Regions from separate parts of the Homo sapiens genome. Here region 1 is linked to region 2. The links come from fine-mapping of genetic effects on gene expression. A gene starts in region 2. The other region holds a variant in brackets. All regions are shown on one strand. Distances are from middle to middle.

Region 1 (5,368 bases), 30 kb before region 2:
CACTCCTCACCTACCTTCTAAACAGGCACTGTGGGGCAGGGTGGGGCTTAGATGAGAGAAAATTCTGGAATCCTGAGCAACTTTGCCTGGGGGGCTCCGCGGTGGAGGGCAGCAGCACCCAAGGACCAGCTAGCCACTCTCTCTGCCCCTCCAGCCTACAGGTGGGAGGATAAGGCTCAGGGCCGACAAGTCCTGTGGCCTCATGCAGCAGAGCTGAGCCGGGACGAACCCTGTCCCCTGGAGAAGCAGGGGACACCCTGGCTGGCTGTGACCACTTTGGCCACCCTGGGCTTCCTGGGTTGGTCAAGGGGTCTCTGGTGTAAAAAGGGGACTCCCTGTCAAAGACTGAGTGAGATGGAGCTGCCCGGCAATGTGGGCCTCTCCCAGTGACTGTCCCTGTTCTCTTGGGCAACGGAAGCCCGAGGATACAATGATGTGTCCCTTCCTTGGCCACACTGGTACCCACAGGGATTATTGTGTTTCTACCTGTGGAGTCAGCTCTCAGGCGCCTCCAGCACTGTGGGAGAAACCCCTGGGACCCCAGTGCTTCTTCCCAACCCTTGGGACTGGCACCCGTCTCTTGTTGAGAGAAAGCACAGTCATGTCTGTCATTCAGAAAATCACATCCCTGGATGGCCAAGCCACGTCAGAAGGGATGGGCTGTGGGGATCCAAGCGTGTTCTACCTCTGGGCTGCACCCGCCATCCCTCTGCTTCGGTTTGAATGCTTGTCCCCGCCAAAACTCATGCTGAAATTTAATCCCCAATGTGGCAGTATTGAGAGGTGCTGCCTTTAAGAGGTGACTGGATCATGAGGCCCTGTCCCCGTAGATGGATTCATCCATTCATGGATTCATGGGTTAGTGGGTTATCATGGGAGGGTAACTGGTGGCTTTGTAAGAGGAAGAGAGACTTGAGCTAGCATGTGAGCAGGCTCAGCATCCTCACCACGTGATGCCCAGTACCGTCTCGGGACACCAGAGTCCCCACCAGCAAGAAGGCCTTCACCTGCTGCAGCCTCTCTGAGGCAGGAGGAGAGGGAATTAGGGAAGCCAAGGGTTGGGGCATAAGCAAAGGAACAGCAGGTACAGCCCGTTCACATAAGCCAGAGAACAGCAGGTGCAGCCCGTTCTCATAAGCCAGAGAACAGCAGGTGCAGCCAGTTCTAGGCAGGATTGGGGAGCACACAGGCCACATCCTCACTGCTGTGATAACAAGTCAGGAGCTTCCACTTCAACCTCTGATTGACCCTGGGCCAATCCTCCACTTCAGCCTCTGATTGGTCCCAGGCTAATCCTTCATAGGGTGTAACCAATTGGAGGCCTCTAAAGGGCATCTGGGGTGTTCTTTATAAAAACCCTGAGAAGCATTGCAATTGGGAGGTCCTTGAGCCGTTTGCTTGGGCCCGCTCCCACCCTGTGGGTTGCACGTTCGCTTCAATCAATCTGTGCCTTTGGTAAGCTGTTTTCTTGTTGCTTTGTCTTTTTTTTTTTTTTTTTTTTTGGTGGAGTTTCACTCTCATTGCCCAGGCTAGAGTGCAATGGCACAGTCTGGGCTCACTCCAAACTCTGCCTCCTGGGTTCAAGCGATTCTCCTGCCTCTGCCTCCCAAGTAGCTGGGATTACAGGTACCGGCCACCACGCCCAGCTAATTTTTTTGTATTTTTAGTAGAGACGGGGTTTCACCATGTTGGCAAGGCTGGTCTCAGGTACCTCGGCCTCCCAAAGTGCTGGGATTACGGGCGTGAGCCACTGCGACTGGCCTGTTTTGTCTGTCATTGTTTCATTCTTTTGTTACTTTGTGAGTTTTGTTCACTTCTTTGTTCAATACACCAAGAACCTGGACAACTCAGTCAGGACCTTCCATCCTATAACACCTCAACCTCGGACTTCTCAGCCTTCATAACTGTGAGAAATTCCTTTTCTTTATAAATTACCCGGTTTTAGGTATTCTGTTATAAGCAACAGAAAATCTACTTTAAAAGCCTCCATGGCACAGGTGAGCCCTGCAGTGTGTCTGGGTGATGCCTGCAGCTGTCGAGAGGGAGGAGACAGCTCAGAGTCACCTGCAATCTGGCTCTTGCCATTACAGACTCCAGATGATGAAGTTGAAAATACTGACAGGCTGGAGGCCATCTGGGGTCCTGCTGGCTCCCAGTTCCAGGAAGCCTGGAAGAGCACTGGGGTGAGCTCGGGCCAGCGCATGTTTACTGTCACAGGGGACATGTTTCAGCACTTTCATTGTAAGGCTGTGGCCTTCTGTGCTTGTGGATCCTCAGTCTCAGTGGCCTTCCTCTTCCCCCCACCCCAACTCCTGTGTTGCGTGTTTAACACACCTACGCCCAACCGGGACATAACTAAATCCTAGACTGTGGACAAAGAATACAGTCACCTCAGGGGGCTGCGAGCTCTAAAGGCTCAGGGCCCAGCTACCCCTTTAGGATGGGTCAGTAACAACACGACTGACTCTGTAAATTGGTGATCACCTGAGACTGGACCTCAGCACCACACGGACCTGTGCTTCACCTTGGCCATCGGGGGAGAGTATGGAGGTCTTTTGCTGGCAGGAATCAGCACCCTTATCCTGGCAATCAGCACTCACTGGCCATTCATGAGGCTCCAGCAGGACGAGTGGCCACAGTGTGCAGGGCACAGGGGATGGGGCTTTCCAAGGTGTTTCTGGATGACATCAATCACACAAGGAGTTGTAGGAATGCTGGC[A/G]TCCTGGTTCACGGGTAGACGCCAGAGGATGCCAAGGGTGCTGGGTAGAAAGCAGAGGATGCCAAGGGTGCTGGGTGGTGGGCCCCTTGGGGGTGCCCAATGGCTCTGGCAGAGTTGTTGGGGCAGAGTCGGGACCACCCCCACCTCTTCCGGGTCCAAGCCCAGGCACTGCACTGAGCACTTGATGAGCCTGACCTCACCATGGCCTTGTGACGTGGGCACTGTGGGCAGGAATGCTTATGGAATGAGGCCCACTGTAACCCTAACACAGCATCACAAGTCTTTCCCCAGAGAGAAAACGCACAGGCAATGGAAATCTATGGTTAGGAACAAAGATTCCCGTCTAAGAAAAAGGGTGGACCACGGGCCTCTAGAAGGGACTGAGGGGGCAAAGTCCTGCCCGTGCACTGGCTAACACTCTTCCTTTAGCTTTTCCCCCCCACTTTCCATATTGTACATTTTATCTGTTTATAATTTTTCTTAGTGCTGACTAAATTCCAGAGTTAGACCTTGAAATCCACAAGTTCCTAATTGGTGGTCAACAGAAACCTCAGCAAGACAAGCAGAAAATGCTCCTCTTCCCCTAAAGCTGTAGAAAGGCAGCCACCAACCTGGGCTAGGAAATGGTCCTTACAGATACTATTTTTTTTTTAACTGTGGTAAAACCTATATAACAAAACTGATGCTAATTTAACTGTTTTTAAGAGTAGAATTGAGTGACATTAGTTCGATTCACTGTTGGGCAACCATCACCACTCTCTATTTCCATAATTTTTTCATCACCCCAAATAGAAGCTCTATATCCATTAGCTAACTCCTCATTTCCCCTCCCTCTAACCCCTGGTAGCCTCTATCCTTTCTGTCTCCATGAATTTGCCTTTTGGAGATATTTCTCATAAGTGGAATTGTAATGTTTTCAAAGTTCATCCATGTTGTAGCATGTGTGGGCATACCATACCTTTTTTTTTTTTTTTTAAGAAGCGGAGTTTCCCTCTTGTTGCCCAGGCTGGAGTGTAGTGGCACAATCCCGGCTCAATGCAACCTCTGCCTCCCGGGTTTAAGCAATACTCCTGCCTCGGCCTCCCAAGTAGCTGGGATTACAGGTGCTCATCACCATACCCGGCTAATTTTGTATTTTTAGTAGAGATGGGGTTTTACCATGTTGGTCAGACTGGTCTTGAACTTCTGACCTCAAGTGATCCACCCACCTTGGCCTCCCAAAGTGCTGGGATTACAGGCATGAGCCATTGCACCTGGCCTTTTTATGACTGAATAATATTCCACTGTATGTTGCTGGCATGCAATGGTGCATTCTCTTATAAAGCATTATCTTCTCATCCTTTTTATTTGTGTAAAGTTGGTAGGAATGTTCCCACTTTCATTCCAAATTTTAGTAATTTGAGTCTTGTCTCTTCTTTGTTCATCTAAAGTATTGTCAATTTTGTTCTTTAGAAATAACCAGTTTTTGGTTTTGCTGATTTTCTCTATTTTTCTATTCTCTATTTTGTTTATCTCTGCTGTAATCTTTATTATTTCCTTCATTCTGCTAGCTTTGGGTTTAGTTCGCTCTTTTTCTAATTCCTAAATGTGTGCGGATAAATTATTGATTTGAGATCTTTCTGCTTTTTTAATGTAGTCGTTTACAGCTATAAATTTCCCCCAAGCACTGCTTTCAATTTCACCGCATGCTGTAAGTTTTGGTATGTTGTGTTTTTGTTTTGTCTCAAGGTGTCTTCTAATTTCCCTTGTGACTTCCTTTTAGACCCATTGGTTGTTTAAGAGTGTGTTAAGCCTGGGCGCGGTGGCTCACGCCTGTAATCCCAGCACTTTGGGAGGCTGAGGCAGGTGGATCATGAGGTCAGGAGTTCAAGACCAGGCTGGCCAACATGGTGAAACCCCATCTCTATTAAAAAATATATAAAAATTAACCAGCTGTGGTGGTGCACACCTGTAATCCTAGCTACTCAGGAGGCTGAGACAGGAGAATTGCTTGAACCTTGGAGGTGGAGGTTGCAGTGAGCTGAGATCGTGCCACGGCACCCCAGCCTGGGCGATGGAGCAAGACTCCGTCTGGAGTCGGGGAGGGGAAGAGTGTTAAGATCCTTTTGTAGTTGATGAACAATGATGATTGGGTGTTCATGCACATGCGTGAGATGTGTCACCCTCAAACCCTTACGTCGGCACGTTACCCATCTGACGTGAAAAAGAAGAGAGTGCGTTAACTTCCACATATTCATGAGTGTTCCAGTTTTTCTTCTGCTATGGATTTATAATTTTATCCTATTGTAATTGGAATGATACTTTGTATAATTTCGTTTTAAAAATTTATTGCTGGGTGCAGTGGCTCATGCCTGTAATCCCAGCACTTTGGGAAGCCGAGGCAGGGAGATCACCTGAGGTCAGGAGTTCAAGACCAACCTGCTTAACATGGTAAAACTCCATCTCTACTAAAAATACAAAAATTAGCCGGGTGTGGTGGCGGGTGCTGTAATCCCACCTACTCGGGAGGCTGAGGCAGGAGAAGCACTTGAACCTGGGAGGTGGAAGTTGCAGTGAGCCAAGACTGCACCATTGCACTCCAGCCTGGGCAACAAGAGCAAAACTCCGTCTTAAAAAAAAAAATTAAGACTTACTTTATGGCCTAACATA
Region 2 (5,368 bases):
GTGATCAAGAGATCAAACAGTGGGAAGACGCGGGAGGCTGAAGGGAGATGCTCCCTGTGAATACAGAGAAGCCCTCTTCACTCCAGCCCACCTGCAACTGCCCTCAGGCCTTGGGTCAGAATCCTGGCCCTGCCACTGACCAGCTTGGTCACTCTGTGCAATCTAATTCACCTCTGTTGCCTCAGTGACTTTATCTGTCAAGTGAGCTCTTAACAGTCTTGACCCCAAAAGGAGATGATGCAAATTACTTAGCCAAGGACCTCCCCAAAACCTGCTGGCTCTTATTAGCTGTTATCTTAAACCTGTGGGGTCCAGTTCTGGGCTTGCTTCCTCCAGGTAGCTCTCCCCAGCGTCCTGTGGCCCAAAGCACTTTTGCCTTCCTCTGAGCCATAAGCTTCCCTACTGCTCACCTGACCTCAGGGCTTCTGGGCTGCCTGGGCTTCCTCTGACTCCTGGTGGCTCCTGCACACAGTAGGTGCCACAGAGAACACAGCCCATGCTTAAATCCTGGCTGCGGCCCTTGCTGGCTGCACGGGTGTTTAGGTCAGAGACTTCCCTTCTCTGACCCCCTAGCTTCCTAGAAGGTGGTGTTGGCACCTACTCTGTAGGGTTGGTCTAAGGCAGATGAAGTGAGGGGGTGGCCCACAACCTGCACTTTTTGTCTGGCCAAAGCAACAGCCTGTCCAGAGATGGGGGCACGGACCAGGTCACCTCCAGAAAGCAAGAACTGTGCAGGCCAAGCTGGGTCATTGGTGGCTTGGCTTAGAATCGGGAAGATAAGCGGAAGCCCAGATGTGAGGAGATCTGGCAGCCCAGAGGGAAGCACCGGGTGGAAGCTAGGTAGGGAAACAGGGATGCGGGGGAAGGCAGAAACTGTCTGGTGGTTTCCAGAGAGGACAGGGACCAAGTGCGCAGCGTCAGCTCTGGCAGGCCACATAGACACCAGGAAACCAGCCCCAGGACGGGGGGTGTTGGCAGGAGGGACAGGGACTTCCCCGCCCCCTCCCTTGGGCCCTTGGTAAATGGTCATTGTGTTCAGTTTCCGGCAGTGGCCTCCTCTCCTGCCAGGATCCTGGTTTTCCTGACCCAGCCAGAAGCTTCCCCTTTGATTTCTAAATAGCAGTCGAGGTCTGGATCTCAGTGCTGAGGCTGGGCAAGGAGCGCCAGGGCCAGAGAGAGGGAAGACAAGACCCCCAGGCAGGGGTGGGGCTCAGCTCTGCCTCTCCCTCAGTTCCTCAGGGACGGAGAGAGGGAACCTGCACGGCCACTGTGAGCGCTCCGCCGGACCCTCCCAGCACACAAAGCCCGAGCTGCTGCCAGAGGTAATGAAAGCCAGATGAGCGCTGGGCTGGTGTCAGCCTCCCACCCCCACCCTCCCAGGGGTCCCTCTCCAGCCGCCAATGAGGACCAGAGCCCTGGATAGATGAGGGTTGAGGGAACACGTCTGGTCCGGCCATCTGCCAAGCTCAGGAGGAAAGGGTCTCTCAGGCGTGTGGTGTTCCCCCACCAAGAGCTCTGCCCAACACTGGGCGGAGAAACAAGTCGCATCCAGGCCCTGTCTAGGTACCGGGACACCAAGAGGCACGAGACTCAGGCTAACAATCGCCAGCAATCACAACGCGCCACAGTCTAAAGCCATGAAGCGACTGGAGACGCAGCAAGGCAACACGATGCCGCACGGGGACTCAGGAGGTTCACTGTGAAGGCTGCAGCCCAGCCAAAGCTCTGATGGGCCCTGAGCCCCCGATCCAGGAATGGCCTCTGTGCAGGCCCTGTGCCCAGGCAGAGCAGGGCGAGGGGGGCATCTCTGGATTCCACTCCCTCTGCTGTGTAGTCAGCAGCAGTCAGGTGGGAGGCAGATGGCACCACCCAGAGACCCAGGGCACACGAGAAACAAGCCCCCGCCCTCACCTAGTCACCCTCCCCTCCATCCATCACAGGTACACCACTCCCTTCTCTGAATCCTACCCAGTCCTTACCGATTCAGGGTGTTGGCACTCTTTCCAGTTAAGCAGAAACAAGTCTTGCCCGCCCTGGGCCTGGGCCACCCTCCTCCCCTCACCACCAGGACATCTGGTCCCACGTGTTGGAGGCCTGCTGCTCCACCCCATCCCCCGACCCCCCCCCCACCCCGCTCTGAGCAGCCCCGATGTCCCTGGTCACCAGATCCACATCTGCCCCAAGTAGGGTCTGTCTGGAAGGCCCCTATGGTCTCATCACCTCTGAGGATTCTAGGATTTGGCCTTCCCGACCACTTGTTCCACACCTGCATCGTAAAGGCTAACGACGCGCTGCGGGCCCTGGGTGGGAACTGAGTGAAATAAGGCACAGGCCACCGATGTAAACAGGGACAGTGCCGCAGAAAAAGGTCCACCTGGGCTGCAGCGGCCTTGGTGACAGCAGGCCCTGGAACGGTATTGAGGGGCGCAAAACCCCAGCCGTGGTCCCTACTGTTGGACGGGGCGCGGCGGCAGCCCCCACTGCCCACCCTGCTGGCTGATTTCTGCAGAAGGCCCCGACCCCCACCTATGGAGGAGAGAGGAGGGAGGCGGCCCGCTGGGATCGCCCGGCCCCGTCCGGGGCTCGCCCCGACCTGCCCAGCTCTGCCGCGGGTGGGGAGGCTCCGACGCACCCCCCGCCCGACCGCCCCAGCTCACCCACCTCCGGGCGCGGCAGGTCGGGGTCTAGCTGCGTGAAGCTGTGCAGCACCACCGGGCAGCTGTCGGGGACGCCCACCTCCAGGCGCACGGCGTCCCACACGCTGCGGCTCCGCCGGGAGCCCGGAAACAGCGGCTCGGCGCCGCCAGCAGGCCCGGCCGCCTCGGCCCACATGCGCTGCACCATGGAAGGCTCGCAGCGCGGGCGCGGGGCCGGCCCGGCGCGCGGCGGGGGCGGCGGCGCGGCCCGCGCGGCTGGGCTTTGCCACCGCTGTGAGCCCGCGGCCCGGCCCTGCTGATGTCAGGCTGGGGGGCGGGGCCGGAGGGGAAGAGGGTGGGGCCGGGGAGGGGCGGAACCGGAGAGTCCGAGGGACGCGTGCGTGCGCGCGCCCGCGGCCCCGCCCTCGCCGAGGTCAGACCCGGGGCGGGACCGGGAGCCTGGAGGGGCGGGGTCTGAACAAAGAGGGCGGGGCCGGGGAGGTCGAGGGGTGCGCGTTGGCTGGGTCTCCCGGAGGACCGGCTGTCACGTGTGTCGTGGGGCCTTGGGTACCCCGGTTAGGCACCGTTTGCGTGTCACGCTGCTGCAGTGCGTGTGTTGCGTAGGGCTGAAATGTGTACGTGCTGATCATGTGTGGGGAAGCCGCCCTGGAGTCAGCTACCCCGAATTCCAGCAAAGCCTCTCCCCAACTCTGTGGCCTTCCACAAGTTGCTTAACCCCTCTGAGCCTCACTGTTTCTTCATCTGGAAAATCTGGGTAGTGAAAATGACTTCCTCAAACAGTTGCGGGGAGGATGACATTACGTAATGGACATGAAGCACTCAGCACTGAGCACCTGCACCTGACTACAGGCTCAGGCGGAGTTTGGAGAGGCTGACCATGTGTTCAGTGACCCTGTCAGTGCAATTGGAAATCCTGAGTGTGGGGCTGTGTGTGCAGTGGGGGAAAGGGTCAGAGAGTGGGGCCCTACCTTTTTGGGGCAAAGCCCCACACTATCCCCTTACAGACACCCTCAGAGGAGGGGAAGCCAGGGAGGTGGGGGAGAGCGGAAGGCACCAAGGTTGGGGCTGAGAGGCATCTGACAAGGAGGAAGGCATCAAGAGTGACAACGCTGGGCAGAGCACATGGCTGCGTGGCCTGTCAGCTGGGGCTGCTTGTGGCTTGGACATCCCTGGTCTCAGGGTGGAAGTGGGGCTGCTGGGGCTGAAGGGGAAGCAGGGACAGGGACATCCTCAACTACTCTTTCTGGAAGCCAGTGAGGAAGGAAGACAGCCTGGGGCTTAACAGCAGGGCCAGGAGAATGGATGAATGAATGGGACCCTTCCTCATGCCTCACTCATCACTGGGCCTGCCCTGGCCTCAGCCTTCAGTCTTCATGGAGGCCAGCAATTGCTGCCAGCAGCCCTGGCCATGCCAACCTCCCCAGGTCTGGTCCGTACTATTGGGCCTCAGTTTCTCCATCTGTAAACTGAGAGGGCGGGACCAGACAGCACATTCCACGAGCACATCTTGCCCCCTTCCCAAGTGCCAATCCTCAGACACCCACGAAACACTTCCACTGTGACTGGAGTGAGGCGGCAGTTCATCCGTTCAGAACAAGACCCCCATGTGCACACGACTAGAAGGGCCTACTTCACAAAAATTATGGTGGTAAGTTGCAGCTGGGTGGAAGCTCTACTGGTTTTCATTTTACTTCTCTGAATTTCTAATTTCTAAAATCAGTATTTTAATAATCAGCTCTATGTGATAAATGCTGTTTTTGAGACAGTCTCACTGTCACCCAGGCTGGAGTGCAGTGGTGTGATCTCGGCTCACTAAGGCCTCCGCCTCTTGGGGTCAAGTGATTTTCCTGCCTCAGCCTCTCGAGGAGCTGGGATTATAGGCACCTGCCACCATGCCCAGCTAGTTCTGTATTTTTCGTAGAGACAGGGTTTCACCATGTTGGCCAGGCTGATCTTGAACTCCTGACCTCAAGTGAACCGCTCGCCTCGGCCTCCCAAAGAGCTGGGATTACAGGCAGGAGCACTACGCCCAGCCTGTTTTTGTTTTTTTTTTAAGAAGCAAGATGGGTAGATTTGATTTGGGATGGAGATCCCTAGAGGCTGTTTAGGAAGCCTCCAAGCCGTTTGGCCAGGGAGGGTAATGTGGGTGAGGCGTATTTCGAGGCAGGAGGTCCCCACAGGGCCACAAAGAGGTGACCGAGACACTGCCCTCGGCCCTAAGCTCCTCCTCCCATCCCTTTCTTCTGGGGCCAAGCTCCCAATGCCTCCGGAAACTGAAAGTCCAGAAGCTGCCTGCCACTGACTTTATCTCCTCTGCTCTCTTTATCTCCTTCGCTGAGTGATGGGCCTGGGAACAAGCGCCCACCCGTTTTATAGCCCAGAAGGACAAGTGACTCATGAGGACATAGAGGAATCACCACTATTCTGGCCTTGAAGGTCCTGGGTGCTGGGGCGAGGGGTGGCCCCAAGGAGGCTGGAGTGGTGAAGAGTAAAGAATTCATCACACTAAACCCCCCAACGCGGCTGGCCTGGCTCCCTCCCATCTGACTATATCATCTACAGGAGCCAGGGCGGGGGAGGGCGTTACTTAGCCAGTCCCTCTGGCCGGTGTCTGTTTTTACAAAGTTCCTCTTCCTGCCTTGTTCCCCTACCTTTGGGACTCACCTCCCAACTTCTGGGAAGCCTGATCACTGCTCTGGCTGTACATGAGA

What was found. PIP is the estimated chance that this variant, and not a neighbour inherited with it, causes the effect.
Region 1: its variant is the best candidate, but not a certain one, in a credible set for the expression of RALGDS in skeletal muscle (GTEx, PIP 0.85).

What each region holds. Positions count from the first base shown.
Region 1 is chr9:133,088,234-133,093,601 of GRCh38, forward strand. It overlaps LOC124902343 (small nucleolar RNA U13), which reads left to right and starts at 4,819; the gene lies at 4,819-4,918. RefSeq lists an enhancer at 2,255-2,756. The variant A/G (reference allele first, on the strand shown) is at 2,720.
Region 2 is chr9:133,118,311-133,123,678 of GRCh38, forward strand. RALGDS (ral guanine nucleotide dissociation stimulator) reads right to left here and starts at 2,930. Exons shown (of 18, transcript NM_006266.4): 1 at 2,662-2,930. The coding sequence starts at 2,844. RefSeq lists an enhancer at 1,834-2,530 and a silencer at 2,510-3,219.